7 linked regions of the Homo sapiens genome follow. The protein of the gene in region 5 purifies or fractionates together with the protein of the main gene of each other region. This does not show direct contact. Each region holds a gene or a part of one and is shown on either strand. Other genes may lie near its edges. The genes, in order: ALG9, ARSB, ABCA2, MAN2B2, CLGN, CNTNAP1 and PTPRU.

The links.
Region 1: the proteins of CLGN (region 5) and ALG9 purify together in Homo sapiens (co-immunoprecipitation; 2 studies listed by BioGRID and IntAct, with this or other methods). This does not show direct contact.
Region 2: the proteins of CLGN (region 5) and ARSB purify together in Homo sapiens (co-immunoprecipitation; 2 studies listed by BioGRID and IntAct, with this or other methods). This does not show direct contact.
Region 3: the proteins of CLGN (region 5) and ABCA2 purify together in Homo sapiens (co-immunoprecipitation; 2 studies listed by BioGRID and IntAct, with this or other methods). This does not show direct contact.
Region 4: the proteins of CLGN (region 5) and MAN2B2 purify together in Homo sapiens (co-immunoprecipitation; 2 studies listed by BioGRID and IntAct, with this or other methods). This does not show direct contact.
Region 6: the proteins of CLGN (region 5) and CNTNAP1 purify together in Homo sapiens (co-immunoprecipitation; 2 studies listed by BioGRID and IntAct, with this or other methods). This does not show direct contact.
Region 7: the proteins of CLGN (region 5) and PTPRU purify together in Homo sapiens (affinity purification with mass spectrometry; 3 studies listed by BioGRID and IntAct, with this or other methods). This does not show direct contact.

Annotation. Positions count from the first base shown.
Region 1 is NC_000011.10:111,840,582-111,844,081, forward strand, and holds part of ALG9 (alpha-1,2-mannosyltransferase ALG9), read right to left. Parts: intron 229-3,500; coding exon 74-228; intron 1-73. UniProt on the Homo sapiens protein: Mannosyltransferase that operates in the biosynthetic pathway of dolichol-linked oligosaccharides, the glycan precursors employed in protein asparagine (N)-glycosylation.
Region 2 is NC_000005.10:78,776,709-78,779,310, reverse strand, and holds the end of ARSB (arylsulfatase B isoform 1 precursor), read left to right. Parts: 3' UTR 1-2,102; downstream 2,103-2,602. UniProt on the Homo sapiens protein: Removes sulfate groups from chondroitin-4-sulfate (C4S) and regulates its degradation. Involved in the regulation of cell adhesion, cell migration and invasion in colonic epithelium.
Region 3 is NC_000009.12:137,021,738-137,025,237, forward strand, and holds part of ABCA2 (ATP-binding cassette sub-family A member 2), read right to left. Parts: intron 2,500-3,500; coding exon 2,406-2,499; intron 2,104-2,405; coding exon 2,101-2,103; intron 1,316-2,100; coding exon 1,204-1,315; intron 1,129-1,203; coding exon 965-1,128; intron 742-964; coding exon 614-741; intron 265-613; coding exon 154-264; intron 1-153. UniProt on the Homo sapiens protein: Probable lipid transporter that modulates cholesterol sequestration in the late endosome/lysosome by regulating the intracellular sphingolipid metabolism, in turn participates in cholesterol homeostasis.
Region 4 is NC_000004.12:6,578,189-6,581,688, forward strand, and holds part of MAN2B2 (epididymis-specific alpha-mannosidase isoform 1 precursor), read left to right. Parts: intron 1-204; coding exon 205-310; intron 311-3,500.
Region 5 is NC_000004.12:140,421,149-140,424,648, reverse strand, and holds part of CLGN (calmegin precursor), read left to right. Parts: intron 1-3,500. UniProt on the Homo sapiens protein: Functions during spermatogenesis as a chaperone for a range of client proteins that are important for sperm adhesion onto the egg zona pellucida and for subsequent penetration of the zona pellucida.
Region 6 is NC_000017.11:42,681,188-42,685,330, reverse strand, and holds the start of CNTNAP1 (contactin-associated protein 1 precursor), read right to left. Parts: upstream 2,801-4,143; 5' UTR 2,502-2,800; coding exon 2,435-2,501; intron 1,511-2,434; coding exon 1,409-1,510; intron 1,296-1,408; coding exon 1,102-1,295; intron 341-1,101; coding exon 193-340; intron 115-192; coding exon 1-114. Other genes in the region: CCR10 (C-C chemokine receptor type 10), read left to right, coding at 3,508-3,531. UniProt on the Homo sapiens protein: Required, with CNTNAP2, for radial and longitudinal organization of myelinated axons. Plays a role in the formation of functional distinct domains critical for saltatory conduction of nerve impulses in myelinated nerve fibers.
Region 7 is NC_000001.11:29,239,522-29,243,021, reverse strand, and holds part of PTPRU (receptor-type tyrosine-protein phosphatase U isoform 1 precursor), read right to left. Parts: intron 1-3,500.

The sequences.
Region 1 (3,500 bases), on a different chromosome or scaffold from region 5:
GCACTTAAGTTTGTGAGCAATTATTTAATAAGTAAAAAAGAATGAGGCAGATACACTTCTCCCTGAAACTCACCTGAAGTGCAGAGAGAGCCACAGCGCCACAGAGACATATAAGTGGATACACAGGGAAAAGAAATCTCTCCTCTTTGTGAGGCTGGATGAAGAAAATTATAAACCAAATATACATTGGAGCCAAGGTAAGCCAATACGGGTGGCCTAAATTCTGAACTGCAAGACACAGAAAAATACCCATCTTTCATTATATTAGAACAAAACAACATATTTAGTTTTAGTGTTATCTTGATCTCAAATTTAGGAGTATGCCCTAGGACACTCCATAGAATGTTTCTACTCTTGTATTCACACTTTCTCCAATGCCATAAAGGCATCAAAAGGAGAGAAGAATATACTCCTTAGCTCTCCCAAGAGATCTAAACTCTAACAACAAGCACAATACTAGATTTGGTTAGGACACATATAAATGTCAAGTTAATGGCTAATAGAACTTAATAAATTCTACGTTAGATGAAGGAAAAATAAGCCGTCTCCTTTAATGAGTCCTGCCACTAAGACGAAAAGTTCCTGAGTTTAACCAAAAGCATAACATAAATTCATTTCTGGGGTTTTAATTCCAATGTTCTGTTTAATTGGTGTCTCTTATCTATACACCAATCAGTCTGTTCAAATAGCCATGGATCAAAGGAAAACAAAATTGTTGGATTCTCAAATTCATTACTGGTTTTCATCAAGCCACAAATGACGGAGTTTGTTTCAAGGCAAACATAAAAATGCTCTTAAAGGAAGTTCAGTGATTGTTTTCTCTCCATTTTGCAATACTCATCCACTCCGGATCCCCAAATTGGAACAAAAATGTACTTAAAGCATGTGAAAGAATTAAAGGAATGTAATGAACACTAAAACCCAAGAACCTGCTGGAAAGTTCCCGTGGTTAGGTACATGAGAAATGAGAGATAAGCCTGCAACCCACAGTGAAGGCATCTCCTACTGCGTTTACAGGAGTGATAATGAGCAACGCAAATGCGGGCAAATGGTAGATAGACAGCGCCCCCTGGTGTCCACCATGTTAACAGTAAGCCAGTTTACAAGATCAGGATTATCGTCAAGATCCACTTTAGCTATGCCTAATTTAGCATTCCTAGGCTATCACTTTCACTGTAGAAATTCTTTAAGGATAAAAATTCTTGAACTACAATAACAAGATTTTGTTTCAACTTTTGCTCTAAGACATTATGGGATTTTAGATAATAATTTAGAATATATACCTTTCTAGGTAGTATATTTTAAGGGGGAGGTTTTTTGTTTTTTGTTTTCTGAGACGGAGTCTCTCTCTGTCACCCAAGCTGAAGTGCAGTGGCACAATCTCGGCTCACTGCAACCTCTACCTCCCAGGTTCGAATGATTCTCCTGCCTCAGCCTCCTTAGTAGCTGGGATTACAGGCATGCATCAACACACCAGGCTAACTGTTGTATTTTTAGTGGAGATGGGGTTTCACAGTGTTGGTCATGCTGGTCTTGAACTTCTGACCTCAGGTGATCCACCCGCCTCGGCCTCTCAAAGTGCTGGGATTACAGGCGTGAGCCACTGTGCCTGGCCTAAGGTGGGGTTTTTTAATTAGAAGAAAATAAATCCACTTATTGTCCACAAGTAAACAGTCCTTTTCTCTTCTGTACCTTAAAGGCTAACGAGTAATCTTTTTTTAATAAGGCAAAAAATTTTGAAATGTCCTCCATAAAATATACAAAATCACAACCACAGCTAGATATGATGAAATCAAGAGTAATTTCTTTCCTGCTTCTTAATAATTTTCTATGGTTTGGGGGACTTTTTTTTTCTCTTGAGACAGGGTCTCGCTCTGTCACCCAGGCTGGAGCATAGTGGCACAACCATGGCTCACTGTAGCCTTGACCTCCTAGGCTTAAGCAATCCTCCCACCTCAGCCTCCCAAGTAGCTGGGACTACAGGTGTGCATCGCCATGCCCGGTTAATTTTTTAATTTTTTTCGTAGTGACAGGGTCTTGCTATCTCACCCAGGCTGGTCTTGAACTCCTGGGTTCAAGCAATCCTCCCACCTCGTGCTCCCAAAATACTGGGATTATAGGCATGAGCCACTGTGCCTGGTCTTTTTTCTCTTAAAAAAGTATTGGTTCTATTCTAAAATCACATAAAAATATAAAGAAAAAAACAGAAAATGTTTTCTTACTAGGTAGATATGTGCATACATTATGCATTTTAAACCAATATTTTATACTTAAAATTTTATCATACTGTAGAGAACAGCTTAATATCCTGTTTTTTTACTGACGTTACAAGCATTTCCAAATTTTCCACAAGCATAAATAATTATTATTGTTGTTTTTAAAAACAGAGACACAGGTCTCACTATGTTGCCCAGAGTGGTCTCGAACTCCTGGGCTCAAGCAATCCTCCCACCGTAGCCTCCCGGGCAGCTGGAACTATATGCACGTGCCACTGCTCCCAGCTATCATAAATTATTTTTATAGTCAGAAAAATAGCTATTTTCAAAAAAAGAAAAAGTGATCCTTAAGAAATAGAAGGGATAGAGGAATAAGTTAACACCTCAAGGGAGCAAACAGCTGAGTCTAAAATGTGGGACATTATGCAAGATGATGGCCTGGTTTCTTTAAAGAAATCTTCGAAAGAAAAAAAGTAAGATGGGGGTCTTCTTAAAAAGCTTAAGAAATATAACACTAAATTCAGTACGTGACCCTTGTTGAGATTCTGCTTTAAACTAACTATAAAAGGCTATTTTTCAGACAATCTAGGAAATCAATGGGTATTAGATGATATTAAGAAATTACTGATAATTTTATTAGGATAATGGCATTATGGCTACGTTGAAACAAAAGTCCTAACACCAAAGAAAAGTGACTCTGAAGGCTGCTCTAATATTCTTATAATACAACGAACTCATTATAAACCATTAATAGTAGAAAAGCAGAATGGAGGTGGGATGGGGGAACTGATCATATGGCATCCAAATCAGACTGCAAAGTCTGAAATTAAATCTTTTTCCAAACCTCATATGAATTTCTGTTCAAATCTGTCTTCCATAAAAGAAATGAGAGGCACTAGATATCCAGAGCCACGACAACTTGAGAAAACACCAGCTGTGCACTACAGAATCAGAGCAAGCAAAGCAAACGACAAACCAAACTTTCTCCAATAAGGCAGACACAGAAACAAAAAGGAACAAAGAAAAGCATCATGCTTCTGAGGAAGTCCAAAGCTTCCCTTACTTCACTATCAAATTTGGGGAAATCCCTGTATGGTTCAGATTTTATACTTTCGTTTGAAGTACTATCTCGTGGATTACCTTAAGCAACCTATCAGGTTAATATACACTTCTTTAAAAGATAGAAAACTCAAATAGGCTTGTTCTCTTCTGAGATTTTTTTTGAGATGGAGTTTTGCTCTTGTCGCTCAGCTGGAGTGCAGCGGCGCAGGGTCTTGGCTCACT
Region 2 (2,602 bases), on a different chromosome or scaffold from region 5:
AGGAGGGCACACCCACAGTCCTCTTATTCTCTGTTTTACTGCTTGTTTTGAGGTTCTGGGGTCTGGCAAAGAGGATGCAGTTTGACACCTGCAGCCCTTTCTCAATCCCACTAATGTCTTACTAATGTGGAACAGTCCATATTAGCTCCAGAGAGTGTCAAACCCAGAGAAATGTGTGCAAAAATGATACTCTTTTCTGCATTAGCCCCACCATTGTGTTCACCAATGCTTGGAACACTGCCTGAAGGCACTCATTTTTTAATTTTTATTTTATTTTTAATTTTTTATATCTTTATGAGACGATCTCACTCTGTCACCAGGTTGGAGTACAGTGGTACAATCACAACTCACCGTAGCCTCAAACTCCTGGGCTCAAGTGATTCTCCCACCTCAGGCACCCAAATAGCTGGAACTACAGGCATATACCGCCACACCCAGCTAATTTTATTTTTTGAAAAGACAAGGTTCCCTATGTTGCCCAGCTGGTCTTAAACTCCTGGGCTCCAGCAATTATCCCAGCTTGGGCTCCAAAAGTGCTGGGATTACAGGCATGAGTCACCATGCCTGGCCTCATTTTTTAAAACAAATGAATAAATGGACAAATGAGTAAATGAGAAAGTCTCACACCATGAAAGATGCTAGTCCAATGAGCTGAATACAGAGGTAATATAAATGTCTTCCAGCTGTTGCTTTTCTGTTCTCAAGCTGCCCCTCCTGGGGTAGGAGCATAATCTACATCACTGGGCAGTCACAGGACACTCTATAGCAAGGTTGTAGCGTCCTCTCCAGTGGGGGGAGAAAAGGAACTGTGCCTACCAAAGGTACTCTCTTGTCAGCAATTTCCATTTCTATACTTTATGGGACACTAGAAACTAAAAGCAACAAATAATCTGATATAAGTCCTTGTATAGTCATCCTTCAATTCAGTAGCAATATTTTCTGGTCACTACTAACCTGTATTGTATTAAAATGAGACTATTGGAAGGAAATGGTGCTAAAACTAATAACATCTCTTACCAACCTTTACCCAACTCCTGGGTTGGCAAACAGCTGACCAAACTGCCATCACCTCCCACTTGGAAGTGTATGGCCGACAGCATGAAATAGCTGAGCCCAGATGTTCCTTCTGCATCCTCCGAATCCCAGGGCTGGGTGTAGGTAGCCGTTGGAGGCCATCGCTACAGGGCACCTATCTGTTATCGCTGCTGTCCTCCCAACAGCTGTCTCCAGTTCTAGTTCCTTGGTTTTCAGGCACAGTGGGGGATGTTCTGCACCCAGTGGACTTCAAAAGAGTTTTGAAGACTTAATTTTTTGTAAAACAAGTACTTGAGATTTTGGTTTATCCATAATAGAATGTATTTCATTAGATTCTCTGATTCTATATAAGAATGTGAAAAGATTGATATATTGTTGTTAGAAATAATGTTATTTCTTTCCAATTTTTTTTTTTTTTTTTTTTGAGATGGAGTCTCGCTCTGTCACCCAGGCTGGAGTGCAGTGGTGTGATCTCGGCTCACTGCAGCCTCTAACTCCCAGGTTCAAGCTATTCTCCTGCCTCAGCCTCCCAAGTAGCTGGATTACAGGCATACACCACCACGCCTGGCTATGTTTTGTATTTTTCGTAGAGATAGGGTTTCACCATGTTGGCCAGGCTGGTCTCAAACTCCTGACCTCAAGTGATCCACCCACTTCAGCTTCCCAAAGCACTGGGATTACAGGTGTGAGCCACTGTGCCCGGCAAATTTTTTTACCTTTACAGAAGGTTTTGCTTATTTAATTGTGAGCTCATTTTTCTTTGTTACTTTTGTCCCCCCAGATTTGGGGGACAAAATAAAATTAATCTTTTAAAATGTGTCAGCCATATGTATGGGGCTTCCATTTGGGGTGAGGAGAAAGTTCTGGAACTAGATAGTGGTCATGGTTATACAACATCATAAATGCAATTACTGCCACTGAATTGTATGTTTTAAAGTGGTTAAAATGTTAAGTTTTATGTTTTATTACAATTTTTAAATGTGTCAACCAACTTTATAGTACATAAATTATATCTCAGTAAAGCTGTTAAATAAATAAATATAGTAAAAATTTTAGAACTAAAAAAAGTGTCAATCATTGCCCTAAGAATATAAACTATAAAATAAGGTATTAGAGGGAGGTCAAGGAAGGGTAGGAGTGAAAACAAAGTGACAGTAAAAGAGAGTATTAGCTCTCTATTGCTGCGTAACAAATTACCCCAAAACTTAGCAGCTTAAAACAATAAACATTCATAACTTCACACATTCTATGAGGGTAAGGACACTGGGAGTGGTTTAGCCCAGTGGTTCTGGCTCAGGGTCTCTCGTGAGATTGTTGTCAAGCAGGCCTGTGGTCATCTGAAGACTTGAGTGGGGCTGCAGGCTCCACTTTTAAGCTGACTCACTCACAAGGCTCTTGGCTGGAGGCCTCAGCTCCTTGCCATGTGGGCATCTCCACAGGCTGCTTGGATGTCCTCACACATGGCAGTTAACTTCCTCCAGAGCAAATAAACAGGGAGCCACAGGGCCTTTCATGACCTAGTCTCTAGAGGTGTACACTGTCACTTATACCATTTTTCTATTTGTTA
Region 3 (3,500 bases), on a different chromosome or scaffold from region 5:
TACCCCTCATGCCTGCCATAGACCCCTGGGACCCTCCCCCTCTCCCAGGAGGAGCTCCAAGTCACCAAAGGGGCCCTTTCCTCACCCACGGAGCAGAAGCACCCCCAGAGGCAGGCAGCACTCCAGGCCCATCCCACACATGGATGCCCTCACCTCCATCCGGAACAGGGGATTGCCCCCTAGGCGGCTCCAGGGCTCCTGACCCTTGTGGAGGCCAGACTGTGAATCCAGGGCAGATGAGGGACCAAAGAGCAGGTGGTAGACCTAGGAGGTGTGGGGGAATGGCTCAGATGGGGTGTGGGGGGCGTGGCTCAGATGGTGGGGGCGTGGCTCCGATGGACGTGTGGGGGCGTGGCTTAGATGGTGGGGGCGTGGCTCAGAGAGTGGGGGCGTGGCTCAGATGGTGGGGGCGTGGCTCCGATGTAGGTGTGGGGGCGTGGCTCAGATGGTGGGGGCATGGCTCAGAGAGTGGGGGCGTGGCTCAGATGGTGGGGGCAAGGTTCAGACGGTCTGGGCGTGACTCAGGCTGAGCATCCTGAGGATGGCTCAGCAACCAGGGGGCGTGGCTGGGGCAGAAGGGAGTGGCCAGGGCTGGGAGCTGTCCCTGCCTTACCTCGGGCGGGTCCACACGGGCGGCCAAGAGTGCTTGGGCCGTGCTATTGGGCAGCGACAAGTTTTGCGTCAGGAAACGCCAGAGCTCCTGCGGGTTTCTGGCCACCGAGTCCAGAGAGAAGGAAGACACTGGACAGGCAGGAAGGCGAGGCTGAGAGGCCGCTGCACCTTGGCAAGGTGCCCCCACATGCGCTCGGAGCCGAGCCCAACACCACAGCTCTGCCACTGCAGCCTGTGCGTGGCTGGGAACTCAGTGCAGGTGGAGGGGCCCAGAGTGGATGTGGGCTTCAGCCCAGTGACAGCAGAGCTTTGCCCGCAGCCCTGCCCCCCAACTTCCCTGCACAGGGCACACCTGTGGATCTGTCCAGGTGGCTCCCCGAGGTGCCCGGGCCCGCACTGAGGGCCTCCAGATGCTGGCGTAGGGCCTCGAGCTCTGAGCCCAGGCTGGGCCGCGCTGGGTCAAACAGGTTGCCTTCCTCCACCACGCGGTCCAGGCGCTCAAGCAGCTGCGTGACCCTGCACCATGGCGGATGTCACTCACTGGATGGGCTGGGGAGGGGTGGGTGCTCCGAGGGGCGGGTGGGCACTCACGTGGAGTTGGCGTACTGCAGGAAGCCGAACTCGTCTCGCTGGCCGTCCGGGCACAGCGATTGCATGACAGGCAGGATGCCGGCAGACGTCAGGGGCGCCGCTGTGTAGAAGGCTGGCAGACCCACGGGAGAGGGCAGGGTCGGGGGTGAAAGGGGAGAGAGAGAGAGAGGAATCCAGAAGGGGAGGGAGACAGAGGCCGAGAGGAGAAATTTAGAGAAAGTCAGGAAGGAGAAGCAGCGTTAGGGAGAAGGCGGCACAGAGCCCTGGCCCCAGCTGGGCTACAGGCCAAGCGTTCTGGGGCGAATGACTCCAGCAGGTCAGAGGTCAAAGAGCCACTCACCACCCCTTCTGCCATAACTCCCAGAGCATTCCTTTCCTTTCAGCCAGTGCAGGCCCACATGCCCTGGCACTCTCCCCCCGAAAACGTTTCAGGTGTGGCACTGCCTACAGAGCCCAGGGGAGGACAAAGGACCCCCTCTGGGCAGTGACCTCTGACCTCTGGCCAGCTGGTTAGCAGAGTGAGTGCAAGAGCCTGAAGGAGTATGAAGGGAGAGTAGCCAGGCCGCTCCAGCCCCAGCCCAGGCCAGCCCAGCCTCAGCCCAGACTCAGCCCAGAAGCCGAGGCACCCCAGCCCTAGAAGGCAAGGCCAGGCAGAGAGATGCCGCCTCAGCTTGACCCAGGCACCAGCTGTGCCTTTAGGTGGCCGGGCCTTTCACTCCCTACCACCTCCCACTTCACTGCCTGCCACCCCCCATCTGGAGCCAGCTGTTCCTGAGGCCGGCAGGGGGCCCGGGAGGGCTGTTAATGCAAGCGGGGAGGGCGCTCAAGCCAGGACGGCCCATGGGCCCCCCGCAGCTGCTGCCCAGGCCAGCCAGGAGGAGGTGGCCGCTCACTTACAGACTGCATGCCAGCCGAGGACAAGAGACCATGCGGGGAGGGAGGGGGATCAAAACAGAACAGAGGAGACCAGTGAGTGCCCACATCACCAGGAAGAGGCGTTGGCATCATCATTCGCGGCCACAGGCCAGCCCCGACCTCCACAGCCCAGCCAGGAGGCACGGCCCAGGACCACACAGGGGAGCAGGCACCGCACCTCAGGGACTCCGGGAGCAGGACACCCGTGTGCAGATGTGCACACACAGCGCAGGCGTGCGAGGTGCCGCGCTCCCCCGGCTGTGCCTGGGGCCTCCTGCCGCACTCACCTTCCTTCACGGAGATGGTGGGCTTCTTCTGTCGCAGCCCCAGCAGGATAAAGAACAGCACCAGGGGGATGAAGATCTCGAAGGCCAGGACCCACTGGAAAGGGTGGGCCCAGTGAGGGATAGGACAGACCTGTGCTCGCCTAGGCCCTCCCCAGCCTCCCATAGGGCTGGCCCAGCCCAGACAGGACCACGTGCTCCCTGGGGCCAGGGAAGGTGGGCACAGGCCCTTCGGAACCACTGAAGGTCTGAGCCCCTTCCAGGGCACTGAGGGTAAGGATTGTCTGGCTCAGCAAATCAGGTTTCCCGTCCCCAGCCCACACTGGGCCTACGTGCCCTCTGAGGAGCCTCAGGGCCTACAGGGACAAATCGGCCAGCTTGTGGTCTACTCTGACCCATGTATATCCCAGCTCATCTTCTCCCTCCCCACCTCCAGGGCTACCTGGGCAAAATCTTGGGGACCATCTGAGCCACTAGCCCCGCCTACACTTCCCACACTGCCCCGGGTTCACCTTCCTCCCACTTCCTCCCCACCAATACCGGGGCCTGGGGAGATGAGGAGGCCTGGTTGAGAGGCTTGGCCTGCGCCCAGGGCCCTGAGCCTCGGAGAAGACCTGGTAAGGGGTCTAACAGCCCCAGTCCCTGAAGCAAAGGCACCTTTTTTTTTTTTTTTTTTTGAGACGGAGTCTCACTCTGTCACCCAGGCTGGAGCACAGTGGTGCGATCTCAGCTCACTGCAAGCTCCGTCCCCCAAGTTCACACCATTCTCTTGCCTCAGCCTCTCGAGTAGCTGGGACTACAGGCGCCCGCCACCATGCCCAGCTAATTTTTTGTATTTTTAGTAGAGACGGGGTTTCACCGTGTTAGCCAGGATGGTGTCGATCTCCTGACCTCGTGATCCGCCCACCTGGGCGTGAGCCACCACACCTGGCCCAAAGGCACCTCTTTCTGCCCTGTCCCCTCTCCTGACCCGGGGCAGCCAGTCTTGGGCCTTGGAGCTCAGTTTCCCCAGGTCGGCTCCTGCTAACCCAGGCTGGGCACCAAGGTGAGCCCTAGTGGGACCTGCGTGGAGTGAGAAAGAGGTGCTTTGCTCACTTC
Region 4 (3,500 bases), about 130 Mb from region 5:
TCAAATACCACCTGAGGGCTGCATGATTTCTAGGTGGTGGGAACACAGTGTGGACCAGGACAGACAGTGCCCTGCTTTTATAGAGTAAGCAAGGGTGGGGAGTTTTATGCAGGGCGTGTGTGGCGCTGTAGGTGTGTTCCCCACAGACCCAGCCATGCTCAGGAGCCGTAACTGGCTTTTTTCTCTCTGCCTGCCCATGTCAAGGTCCGCCAGCTCCTGGAGGAAGGACGCCTGGAATTTGTCATCGGAGGCCAGGTCATGCATGACGAGGCTGTGACGCACCTTGATGACCAGATCCTGCAGCTCACAGGTTTGGCCACCCTACCCTGCACCCAGGGTCCCTCAGGACCTCCAGTGGGGCTGGGACATGGTATCAGAACCCCCAGGTTCTGAGCTCTGTCTGCCCCTCTTAGTGGGGTCGGGGACCTTAACCAGTGAAAGCAGTGATTTGCTAGTGCCATATTCATGCCTCACCAAGGAAGTTGAATGTAGGGGTTAAGAGCATGGATGCTAGAGTCAGATGGTCTCAATATATCCTGGCTCTGCCAATTCCCTCCTCTGTGACCCTGGAAAGGAATGTAACTTCAGTTTCCTCATAGATAAAATGAGTTTGATGGTAATACCTACCTCAAAGGGTTGTTGTGAGTATTAAATGGGATAATTCAAATAAAGCACTTTAGTAGGATGTGGGTTCCCTAGTAAATGCTCAGTAAGTGTTTGCTGCCTTCCATCACAATTACCACCTTCAGCACCATAATGACCATGACTACTACCATCACCACCACCACCACGATGACCATCACTACCACTACCATCACCACCACCACCACCATCACCATCACCACTACCACCATCACCACCATCACCACCACCATCACCATCACCACCACCACCACCATCACCATCACCAGCACCACCACCATCACCATCACCACTACCACCACCACCACCATCACCACCACCATCACCATCACCACCACCACCACCACCATCACCATCACCAGCACCACCACCATCACCATCACCACCACCACCACCACCATCACCACCACCACCCTTCACCACCATCACCACCACCACCATCACCACCACCATCACCATCACCACCACCATCACCACCACCACCACCATCACCACCACCACCACCACCACCATCACCATCACCACCACCATCACCATCACCACCACCACCACTACCCTTCACCATCACCACCACCACCATCACCATCACCACCACCATCACCACCACCCTTCACCATCACCACCACCCTTCACCACCACAATGACCATCACTACCACTACCATCACCACCACCATCATAACTACCATCACCACCACCCTTCACCACTGCTATGACCACCACTACCACTACCATTACTACCACTACCATCACCACCATCACCACTACCACCATCATCTTCACCACTACAATGACCATTACTACCACTACCATCACCACCACCCCCTAAACACTATCACCATGATCACCACCCATCACTGTCGCCACCACCATCACCACATCCATTACTACCATCCCCTCCACAATCATCATCACCACCACCATGACCATCTCCCTCACCATTGTGTCCACTGTCCTCAGCACCATCACCCACAGTGCCGTGGGGCACTCTACTCACCATTTACCAAATGCCTTTCACAGTGACACCCCAGCCAATCCTAATGGCGGGCTGATGGTGAGGCATGGTGATGCCCAGTTTCATTTTGCAGATGTAGAAACTGAGATCCAAAGAAATGCAGTAACTCTCTCCAGGGTAGATGGCCAGGACTTGAGTCCAGGCCTAGGGACTGAAGCTCCGAGTCCACAGTCACTCCACTACAGCATGGGCCCTGATTTCCCCATTTGTAAAACATCCAGGCAGAGAGCAATGTTGTCAAAGGATGTTTTTGGCACTCTCCCTTTTCTCATCTGTAATCTGGAGTGTTCCCCTGTCTCAGTTTCTTACTGCCTTACATCTGGACTTTGCTCAAACCCTAGACTTGCCCTTCCATGAGAAGGAGGCGTGATGGACACAGCCCTACAGACAGAGCTCCTCCTGTGGCCAGGAGCTCAGCCCCTGCTTGTCCCCCTGCATCCCCACAGGCCCAGAGGTAACAGGGGAGGACAGCAAGGCTCAGAGGGAGCACCTTGCCCTCAGCCGCCTGCTGTGGCTCCCTGACTCCAGAGCCCCTGCTCTTTCACTCCCCCATGTGAAGTGTGGGCAAGGGATCTATCCCAACAGACTTCCCCCACACCCCTTCACAAGCCCACTGCCAGGGAATGTGTGACACTGTAGGCGTGTCCCCCACCTGCCTCCTGCCCCGTGCCAGCGAGGAGGCTCTGGGGCTGTTTCTCACCTGTGCCATTTCACGCAGTGCTCCCCCTCATTCTCCACCCTCCTCCTCAAGATGCAGCTGAGAAGCCCCTCCCGCAGGAAATCTCTGAGTCTCTGCAGTTCTGTGTCACCTCCCCACTTAACCGCTGAACCTCAAGATGCCCCTGGCAGGGACCCCCATCTGACTCATCTCAGCACCCAGCATAGGGTCTGGCCCAGACCACTGCTTACTGGGCAAGGCTGGGCAAGGGGTGGGCGCTGAACTGCCCTGCCCTGAGGGTACCCACCACTGGGGTACCTCGCCTCTGGCCTCAGCCCACCGTGCCTAAGTGCTGATACCCCAGCGCTGACCCTGCAGGTCTGACCTGGCAACTGGAAGCCTCAGGGAAGCTGAGGCTGTGTCGCTCTGGGGCAGGAAGAGCCTCCAGAGACACAAGAGACAGCGGCTGTTGTGAGGCTCCATTTCCAAACCTGTCCAAGCTCATGGGGCCCTCAGGGTACAGACATGTGGGTTTCTTTCATGATAACCACCTTGTTCTAGGTACAAGATGTACACGTATTTTTTTTTCAGTCCTCAGGGCAATCTGGTAGATGGGTAATCTTACAAATGCTTATTTGTAGAGAAGTTTGAGGCTCAAATGCTATCCAAATGTGCCCACCACCAGCTAAGTGATGGGACCCAGATCCAACCCTAGCCCGGCCGAGTCAGGAAGGTTACTTGTGGCTGAGCCCCTCTCACTGGCGGCTGAGCCAAGCCCTTTCCCATCTGCTATCTCTTAGTTGCCTCAGAACAGCCTGGTAGCAAGTGGTACTGTTCACAGCCCCATTTGACAGATGAGGAAACTGAGGTACTGAGAGATGCGGGATTTATATATATGCAGTAGGTAACAGAACTGGCGCTCAAGCCCATGTGTGCCTGGCCTGGGCTCTTTCCTTAACTTGTAGTCCCTAGGGCGGGGGCAGAGTGTGTGTATCAGACCACCCATCTCAGATGTCCCAGGCATTCTGGCTGTGAATTATGTCCACATTGGGCTGGTTTTCTCAGATATGTTGGGGTAAGAGGGGCTGGATCACCCCTCACTGCTTCCGGGCCCTTTATCCTCCATCTCACCTTGGTGGAGCCCCTGCCTCGAGGCAGGCCCTGGACAGCAAAGGAAGACAGGAGCA
Region 5 (3,500 bases):
AAGAGGGTGACATTAGCACTAAATGTTCTACCCTATACCATATAAACAAATTCTTGCTGTACTAAAATTATATAACTTAAACAACCATACAGATCAATAAAGAAATAGATAACACCACAAGCCAACTAAACATAATAAACATATGGACAACACTGTACCCAACAATAGCAGAACACACATTTTTCTTAACTGCACATAGAACATTCTCCAGGATAGACCATATTAGACCACAAAACAAGTCTTAATGAATTTTAAAAGATTGAAATCATACAAAGTAAGTTTTCTGAACACAAAGGAAAGGAACTAGAAATCAATAGTAGAAGGAAAACAAGAAAAATTCACAAATATGTGGAAATTAAACAGCACACTCTTGAACAATGAGCCAAATAAGTCTCAAGAAAAGTTAGAAAAACATCTTGAGACAAATGAAAAGGAGAACAAAAGATACCAAAACTTATGGGATACAGTGAAAGCAGTGTTAAAAGGGAAATTTATAGCTTTAAGCACTTACATGAAAAACAAAAGATCTCAAGTTAACAACCTAACTTACACCTTGAGGAACTAGAAAAAGAGCAAATGAAACCCAAAAGTTAGAAGAAAGAGGGAAATAATAAAGATTAGAGCAGAGAGAAACAAAATAGAAAATAGAAAAACAAGAGAGAAAACAAGTGAAATCAAGAGTTAATTCTTCGAAAAGGTCAACAAAAAAATTAACAAACCTTTAGTTAGATTAAGAAAAATGAGAGAAGACTCAAATAACTAAAATTGGTAATGAAAGGACATTACATCTGATTCTACAGAAATAAGAGGGATTATAAGAGAATACGCTGAAGGATTGTATGGCAACAAATTGGATAACCTAGATTAAATGGATACATTCTTAGAAACACACACTCTATCAAGATTAATCATGAAGAAGTAGAAAATCTGAACAGACCTGTAACTGGTAAGGAGATTGAATCAGTAAACAAAAACTTCCCAGCAGATAAAAGCCCAGGACTAGGTGGCTTCACTGGTGAGTTCTACCAAACATTGAAAGAATTAACACCAGTCCTCCTCAAATTCTTCCGAAATATTGAAGAGGAGTAAACACTTCCAGATTCATTCTATGAAGCCAGCATAACCCTGTTATCAAAGCCAAAGACACTACAAGAAAACTACAGAGCAATATTCCAGATGATTATTGATGCAGAAATTCTTAACAAAATACTTGACAACAAAATTCAGCTGCATATTAAAAGAGTTATATACTATGACCATGTTGGATTTATTCCTAAAATTCAAGGATGATTCAACATAAGAAAATCAGTGTACCATGCCACATTTACAATGTAGGGAGGGGAGAACACATGATCATCTTTATTCATGCAGAAAAAGCATTTGACATGATTCAACACTCTTTCATAATAAAAAACACTCAGTACACTAGGAATAGAAGGAAACCACCTCAACATAGTAAAGGTCATATATGAAAAGCCCACAGTTAACATCAGACTAAATGGTGAAAGACTGAAAGCTTTTCCTTTAAGATCTAGAATAAGACAAGGATGCCTGCTTTTTCCACTTCTCCCGAGCCAGAGAAATTAGGGAAGAAAAAGAAAGAAAAAAGACATTCAAATTGAAAAGGAAGAAGTAAAATTATCTCAGCAGATAACATGATCTTATATGTATGTACAAAACCCTAAAGATTTCACGAACACAATACAAAAGTCTGTTAGAAATAATAAATGAAGGCCAGGCATGGTGGCTCATGCCTGTAGTCCCAGCAATTTTGGAGGCCAAGGTAGCCAGATCAGTTGAGTCTAGGAGTTTAAGACCAGCCTGCGCAACATGGCAAAAACCATCTCTACAGAAAAATACAGAACATTAGCTGGGCATGGTGATGCTTGCCTGTAGTCCCAGCTACTCGAGAGGCTGAAGTGGAGGATCACCTGAGTCCAGGAGTTCAAGGCTGCAATGGGCCATGATGGTGCCACTGCACTCCAGCCTGGGTAACAGAGTGAGATCCCATCTCAAAAAACAAACAAATGAATTCACTAAAGTTGCAGGGTAAAAAAACTAGCACACAAAAATTAGTTGCACTTCTGTATACTAACAATGAACAGGAAATTAAGAAAACAATTCCATTTATAACAACATAAAAAAGAATAAAATACTTAGGAATAAATCAAGGAAGTAAAATACTTGTACATGAAAAATTATGAAATGCTGCTGAAAGAAATTAAGAAACAAATATTAATCAATGGAAAGACATTGTGTTCATTGGGATTGGAAGACTTAATAAGATGGAAACACAACCCAAAGTAATCTACAGATTCAGTGCAATCCCTGTCATAATCCTAATAGCACTTTTTGCAAGAATAGTAAAATTCATATAGAATCTCAAGGGACCCCAAATAGCCAGAACAATCTTGGGAAAGAATAAGTTTGGAAATCTCACATCTCTGTTTCAAAACTTATTACAAAGCTATAGTAATCAAATCAGTGTGAGACTGGCATAAAGACAGACATATATATCAATGGGATACAATAAAGAGCCTAGTAATAAATTCCCACATATATGTTCAAATTTTTTTTATAAAAGTGCCAAGACCATTTTGTGAGAAAGGACAGTCTTCTCATGAGATGATATTGGGGAAACTGGCTATCCACATGCAAAAGAATGAGGTTGTAACCTTACCTTAAATCATAGACAAAAATTAACTCGAAATGGATTGAAGACTTAAACATAAGAAAACTATAAAACTGTTAAAAGAAAACATGGAAAGCTTCATGACATTGAATTTGCCAGTAATTTTTATATGACACCAAAAGCACAGACAACAAAAGAAAAAATATATAAATTGGAAAACTCAAAATTAAAAAGTTCTGTGCATCAAAGAACACAACAAAATGAAAAACCTATGCAATGGGAGAAAATATTTGCCAATCATATATTTGATAAGGGGTCAGTATCCAGAATTTGTAGGAACTCCTACAACTCAAAACAAAAACAAAACCTGATTTTTTAAATAGGCAAAGGACTTGAATAGACATGTTTCCCTTGAAGATGTATAAATAGCCAACAAGCACATGAAAAGATACTCAGTATCACTAATCATCAGGGAAATGCAAATCAAACCACAATATGATACTACGCCATATTAGGACCTATTACAATGACTACTATTTAAAAAAACATAATTTTGAACAAATGTTGGCAAGGATGTGTAGAAATTGGAACCCTTGTGCCTTGTTGGTGGGAAGGTAAAATGGTAAAGCCACTGTGGAAAACAGTATGAGGATTCAAAAAAAAATAGAATTATCATATGACCAAGCAATTCAACTTATGGGTATATACTCAAAAGAATTGAAAACAAGGTCTCGAAGAGTTATTTGTATACCCATATTCATTGTAGGATTATTCACAACAGCCAACAGGTGGAAGCAACCCAAGTGTCCACTGACAGATGAATGTATAAACAAAATGTGGTGTATACACACAATGGAATACTGTCCAG
Region 6 (4,143 bases), on a different chromosome or scaffold from region 5:
CCTTCTCCTCGGTCTTGAAGCTGAAGGCGAACACGTCCCACAGGCTTCGGCTGACCCCTCGCGGGAAGCGGTAGGAGATGGCATCGTCGCCGTCGAAATAGAGTATGTCGGCCTCTGCGCAAAGGACCGTAGGTGGGCCGGGAACTGGGGAGGCTGTCTCCCAGGCCCCCTCCGCGCTCTCTGCACACTTACTGTATGGGCAGCCATAGAGGCCGAGCCTCAGGCCGATCTTGCCGCGTGGGTTCCAGGCCAGGGGCACGATGCGGATGTAGCGCGCAGTGAAGTGGAAGTGCAGGTCATGGCGCACCACCGCCGACTCGTTCACGTTACCAAAGAAGGTCTGCGGGGGTGGAGGAGAGTAGTAACCACGTCCTGCCCTCTGCTTCTTTTTTTTATTTTATTTTTTGAGACAGAGTCTCGCTCTGTCGCCCAGGCTGGAGTGCGGTGGTACGATCTCGGCTCACCGCAACCTCTGCCTCCCGGGTTCAAACAATTCTCTTCCTCAGCCTCCCAAGTAGCTGGGATTACAGGCGCCCGCCACTACGCCCGGCTGATTTTTTTGTATTTTTCATAGAGACGGGGTTTCACCATGTTGGCCAGGCTGGTCATGAACTCCTGACCTCGTGATCCACCTGCCTCGGCCTCCCAAAGTGCTGGGATTACAGGCGTGAGCCACTGCGCCCGGCCCCCCTCTGCTTCTTTCTCCATAGCCTCCCAGCCCACAACTTTCACACCCAGCCAATCTCGACTTCTGGAAAGTAAACACTCCTTGGTCTTCCCTGCTTGGCGGCTTTGCCCGCACAGTTTCCATAAAGTGCCCTGTCCCACAATCCTATTATTTCCTCAGACCTGAAATCAAATGTCACCTCCTTAGGAAGCTCTCCCAGGTTTTACCCTAAAGTGTGTTAAACCCTGTGAACCGAGTGTTTCGCGCACGTCCTAAGCTGACAGTCCCTCTGGACAGAGTCCCTGGAGTGGAGTCACTGCTCCTTGTCCGAGCCCTCACCACCACCCCCTCCATTTTCCCAGAGGCTGGTGCCCGGCCCAGAGCCTGGAGCAGAGGAAGCTCCCCAAGTGTTACCGCCTTGGCGCCCAGAGTACCGAGTTGTGCCCTCGCTGGTAGAACGGTGTCCAGCTGTCCACTCGGTCGCCGTAGAGTAGCATGTAACGTGTGACCCAGTCCCAAGAATTAAAGGAGCCCTGTGTGGCCACGGCCCGGATCCGGTGCTTCTTCATTAAGTCTATCTGGAGCCAGGGATTCGGATCCCCAATCCGTGGTGACCACCCGCTTATGCCTATAGAAAGGACAGGAGCTTTAACCGGCTATCCCTCTCCCCGAAGTCCTCCGGAGGCCCCCACCCTTCCGCGGTGCGCTGCCAGTTGGCAGCTGATGTTCCGCGGAGCTCACCGTGCAGCCTGGCGAATCTCGGCGCAGTAAGGAGACTGTAGTAGGAGGAGGCGCCCAGGGAGCGTGCATACAGGGGACCCACCAGCTCCTCGTCGCAGCCGTCTAGGGTAGGGAAACCGACTGTTAGTCAGCGCTGGCCCCTCCCAGACCCTTCCAAAGGCCGGCCCACTTAGCGACCGAAGCTTCCCCTTCCGTGCCCCCAACCCCCGCCCCCAGAGGCACACCCAGCCCTACCTTAAAGCCATCTATTCAATCCTGGCTGCAGCAACAGCTGCATGCTCAGAGGAGGCTACCTTCTCCTTCTAGGCAAACCCCTAGGCTACACCTATAGGCCCAAGGCCAGACCCTCCCTAGCTAGCCCAATACCTGCCCTGGTTTAGTACTTTCCCAAACTCAATCCTAAACCTCAGCATCTTCCACAACCTAAGTCAACCCAAGACACCAATCCAGCTCCAACCCTAGCCTCAATCCAACTCGGCCCCCAAAACCTGCACCATCCCCAAATACAGGCCTTGCACCCAACCTCAGCCAGTGCTAGCACCATCACCAGCTCCATGTCCAGCCTTAGCATCAGTCAGGGGCACCAGCTCCTGCTTGGATCCCTGCCACAAAACCCAGCCCCAGCCACAAACCCCAGCCCTAGCCACAAACCCCACCCCTTGGCCAGCTCCAAAGTCCAGCCTTAAGCCCTGGCAAAACCTTAATCCTAGTATCGGTCACCAGTATACACTTATCCCCCAGCCCTAGCCTCAAACCCAGGCACCAGCTCCTGCTTGGATCCCAACCCCAAATCCCTGCCCGCTGACTTCATCCTCTTCCCAGAGCCCAGCCCCAGCCCCGGGCGCGCGCGGCAGCCTCAGAGCTGCAATGCGGAGCGCGGGGGAGAGGCAGGAAAAGATGAGAGCCAGCGGGCGCGCGCCGGCCGGGAAGGACCCGCGACCACCCAGCCGCAATGCGGTTCGGGGCCGCCCTGCAGGCTCTGGACTCCTGGGCCCAACCCCACCTGCCTCCAAGCCCAACACTCACAGTAGCCCCAGCCCTCGGCTCCTGAGACCGCGGCGAGCAGGATGCAGAAGAGCCGGAGATGCATCATGCAGGGCTGACGGTCCCGGCAGCCGCCTCCCTGTGAACGGCTCCGGCTAGGGCTCGAGTTCTGGCTTGGGCTCCAAGCTCTCCTCCTGGGGTTTGCAGCAGACCGCTCTCTCCTCCTTACCCACCCTTCCCTCCCTCTCTCCTTTCGCCCCCAAGCGCTCTGTCTCTCCTCTCTCTTTTCTCTCTCTCTCTCTCTGGTTCCTGGTCCTCCGCTCTTCTCTCTCTATCCTCTCCTTTCCACCCTCTTTCCTCTCACCTCCCCCCTTCCCCAGCCTCTGTCTCCTGGCACGCGCCGGTTTCCCGGACCCCGCGCAAGCGCGTGCCTCAGCCCTGCTGCGAAAGGGCGGGGGTAGAGAGCCTCTCGCCACCGGGAAAACCCCAAGTAACCCGAGGCTGCCCGGGACTAGGGCCACAGGAGTGAGGACAGGGAACCTAGGGCCAGAAGCATCCTGAAAATTTCAAGAAAAGGGAGGTGGTTTGGGGGAGGGGTGCCTGGAAATGGAATGAAGGGTAAGTAAAAGAATCTTAACATTTTCGGAAGGCAAATTATGCTCTAGGAGTGGTGCTGGGCACTGTGAATTTAGCATTTTTGCCCTACTCCACTTTGCAGATGAAAAACCTCAGGCTCAGAGAGGTCAAGAAACTTAGTCAATATCACACAGCAAATGATTATATTCCGAAGCCCGTTCTTTCTTCACTGACAAAGACAGTAAATTATTTTTTCTTTCTTTCGTTCATTCTTTTTTCTTTCTTTCCTTCCTTTTTTTCTTTCTTTCTTTCTTTCTTTCCTCTTTCCTTCCTTTCTTCTTCTTTTTTTTTTTTTCGTAAAATCCAGATCCTGCACAAGAGAGTGAAGTCTTTTGGAGGAGGTGGAATGGGAAAGTGACCCCGTAGACCCTAATCCCCACCTCCCTCTCGGCCCCTCTCCCCGCCTCTTCCTTCCTGTCCCGCTAGTAGTTTAACTTCTACCCCCTGTGGCTATACCTCAGAAACCTGTGTAGCCAGAGATGGGGACGGAGGCCACAGAGCAGGTGGGAGTGGGGGCAGGGAGGGGGAGAAGGGTTACAGAGAGGGAGGAGACAGGGAAGGAATGGGATTCCCCACCTGGCAATGGGCCTCTGCCATCCTATGGCTTATTCAGGATTCTTGGCGCTGTCTCAGACTAGGGGTCCTCCAGATAAATGGGCTGGTGGTGTGAGGCTGGGGTTGTGGGACAGGGACTAGGGCTGAGGGGAAAGGCGGGTTGAACCTAGAGGTCCAGGGTCCCACCTGGGCCCTGAAAACCTGAGTCCCAACCCTGGAGACCCCCTTGGCATGAGTGGTTCAGTGTGCTGGTATTGGAGGTACAGGGAAGGTGGGTATGGAAGGGAAAGAAGAGAAACAGAAACCCACTCCAGACGGAGGTTGGAGTCCAGGGCTCAGGTCTGAGGCAAAGCCTGCATATGGGCATCCTTCCAGGAGAGGGCGCTGCAAAGGGAACTGAAGCTGTAGGATTTATTAATAATACAAACTTTGGGCTGGGCGTGGTAGCTCAGGCCTGTAATCCCAGTACTTTGGGAGGCCAAGGTGGGCGGATCACCTGAGGTCAGGAGTTCGAGACCATCCTGGCCAACATGGTGAAACCCCATCTCTACTAAAAATAC
Region 7 (3,500 bases), on a different chromosome or scaffold from region 5:
GGAGGCTGAGGCTGAAGAATTGCTTGAACCCAGGAGGCAGAGGTTGCAGTGAGCCAAGATGGTGCCCCTGCACTCCAGCCTGGGTGACAGAGTGAGACTCCATCTCAAAAAAAAAAAAAGAAACCGAGAGCGTGATGGCAGGCAGAGTAGAGGCCAAGAAGGCTACCAGGCTACTGCAATAGTCCAGGCAAGATCTAATAAGGCTGCAGAGAAGGGGCCTGGATTGAACAAAACCTTTTGTCAAGAGCCACTGAGTCATGGTCCATCCAGACCAATTCCCCTCCCAGAGATGCCCAGGACTCACTGAAGGTGCTGCAGGCCGCCTCATGCCTCTAGACCAGTGCTGTCTGCAGAACTTTCTGAGAGGATGGAAATGTTCTCTGCCTGCATTAACCAGTACAATGAGAGCCACTAGCAACATATGACTCTTGAGGACTTGAAATCTGACTAGTGCAACTGAGGGATTGAATTTTTATTTTAATTAATTTAAATGTAATACCCATACATGACTCAGGAGCCACCGTATTGGAGAATGCAGGTAGAGGACAATTTCCATCACCACAGAAGGTTCTATTAGATAACACAGCTCTAGGCTGACCGTTGAAAAACAGAACTATCGGGGCCCCTTCCAAGGCTTCTGGCTTTGGAGTCTGAAGAGCGATCAGGAGGCAAGTCCCAGGGAAGGGGCTACCAGAGGTTGAGTTGGGTACAGCCACCAGGACATTCCCACCCAACACGTCCACACCCCTTGTGGACACATCCTGGATACATGGACACCACCATAGGTCACAAGGGCACCTCCACATCTAAACATACAAATAGACACATGAGGCCAGGCACAGTGGCTCACACCTGTAATCCCAACACTTTGGGAGGCCGAAGCAGGTGGATCACCTGAGGTCAGGAGTTCAAGACCAGCCTGGCCAACATGGTGAAACCCCATCTCTACTAAAAATACAAAAATTAGCCAGGCATGGTGGCGGGTGCCTGTAATCCCAGCTATTCGGGAGGCTGAGGCAGGAGAATCGCTTGAACCCAGGAGGCAAAGGTTGCAGTGAGCCGAGATCATGCCATTGCACTCCAGCCTGGGTGACAAAGCGAGACTCCATCTGAATAAAAAAGAAGAAAAGGCCGTGCGCTGTGGTTCACGCCTGTAATCTCAGCACTTTGGAAGGCCAAGGCAGGCAGATCACAATGTCAGGAGTTCAAGACCAGCCTGACCAACATGACGAAACCCAGTCTCTACTAAAAATACAAAAATTAGCCAGGCATGGTGGCGTGCGCCTGTAATCCCAGCTACTTAGGAGGCTGAGGCAGGAGAATCACTTGAACCCGGGAGGCGGAGGTTGCAATGAGCCAAGATCACGCCACTGCACTCCAGCCTGGGTGACAGAGTGAGACTCCATCTCAAAAAAAAGAAGAAGAAGAAGAAGAAGAAGAAAAAAAAAAAATAGACACATGGCACCCCACACCCAGACTCACTAACAACTGGATACTTCAATGACTGGGTCCCTGTTGTTTCATACACAGATACCCCCACCCTCAGATACCCGGACACTTGGGGACCCCTACAACCAGACACTCAGGCACCTGGCCAGCCCCATACCTGGACACAACACAGAGACACTCCCCACTTATAAATACCCACTAACCTGAGGACTCCCAGACACATGGATACACCCACCTCCAGCCCCAGGGATGCTGGGATAGCCTCTGTCTGCACACCCTGATCCTCCCACATGCTGGTACTGGGTTGTCCACACCTAGATAGCGAGACACCACCCATCCAAATAGCTCTGCACCCAACTCCAGGAATGTGATACTTGGATAGCCAGACACCCTTAGCACCAGGCTCCCCAGGGGTCAAAGCAGCTGGTTACCTCCCTACTCCAAACTCAGATCCTGCCACACCACACGATAACCAGATGGCTAGACACCCTAACAGGTCACATGTGTCCATGCCCCTAGTTACAATCCCTACACACCCCCCACTCTGACTGCCCAGATGCTAGAGTCACATCTGCACACACCTCAGCCAGCCTCCCCAACCCCATCTGCCAGGGCCACCACGGGATGCAGTTCTCCTCCCTTCCCTCCGGTGCACAAGCGGTGAGAACAGAGGCTGTGACCCCACCCGCCCACCCTAGGATCTAGGACTGAGGACTAAGGGAGGGTCTTCCAGGAAGCTTCCCTCCCTCTCCTAACACAGGGCCCTGCGGGCTCCCTCCCTCCTCCCCAGCCACTCACACAGACCGTTGAGACTCAACGTCTCACCAACTGCCAGGCCCCATCACAAAAGCCTGAGACTGGGGGCTGGAAGGGCCCTGCCAGCTGCTAGGGGTGGGGCCAGAGCCTGGGGGAGGGGCTGGCAGGCAGGAGGCCCGTTCCCTTCAGTCTCTTGCCAGGGACTCAACCTCCCCAACTCAAAGCTCCCAGATGACACTCTCAACATGGCCTTTTCACAACATAACACCATCCCCCACCCTCCAGGAATTTTCCAGATTCCTGGAGGGAAACCTGGTTCTTCAATCTCTACCTTCAGTGGAATCAGTGCACCCCCATCTGGCATCTCCACCTCTGAACCTGGCCCCCTTAAACTTTATTCTTTCAGGCCATATATATTTATTCAGACCCGGTGGGCCAGGCCTTGTACCTGGCACTAAGATTCAGAAGTAAACTAAAAACCCAGTCTCTGTCCTCAGCTCTCAGTCTGGTAAGGGAGACAGCACTAATAAACTGTAATTACAATAATTACAATGCTATGTAAAAATCCAATTGACCCCCACCCCCCGACTTCCTAGGCTAGGACAGGGCATCACCGAGGAAGGCTTCAGGGACTGGATGATGCTTACAGCTGAGAGCCCATCAAGTTGCAGGAGTTCACCAGCAAAAAGCTGGAGTTAGAAAGTTCTGCAGAGAAAGCACGGCTTGCCCAAAGGCCCAGAGAGGAGACAGCAGGCTGTGGGCATTTGGGTCTTTGGTAAGAAGGTCAGGCTGGCCAGATCATAGGATGCAAGGGGCAGTGACACAAAACAAGATGCAGCTGGACAGGCAGGCAGGAGCTAGAGCCAGCAACAGGGCCAAGGGATAAGGACTTCACCCTGAAGGCAATGGGGAGCCTTCAAAGGGTTTTAAACCCTTTGAGTTAAAATGTACTTTACAAAGATCCCTGGCACCATGAGGGAAAGAGGGAAGGAGGAGGCTGGAGTCTTCCTGCAGGTGAAAGATAGCTGAGGACGGACAGAAGGAGACAGATGAAAGAGTCTCTGAGAGGGCAGACAGGACGTTCCAGGATGCAGGAGGGCAACTAGGAAAAGGGGGGAGGGGGAGGAAGGAGGAGCACAAGGTACCCCCTGCAACTCTGGCCAACCCAGTCCTGCATGGAAAGGCCACCCCATATGCCCAGCTGAGCTGATGAAAATCATGGAAGGATGGTGGCCTGTCTCCATCAAGCACGATGCTTGCCCTAGGTTTTTTCTGACACCAGAGCTGGGCAGCAG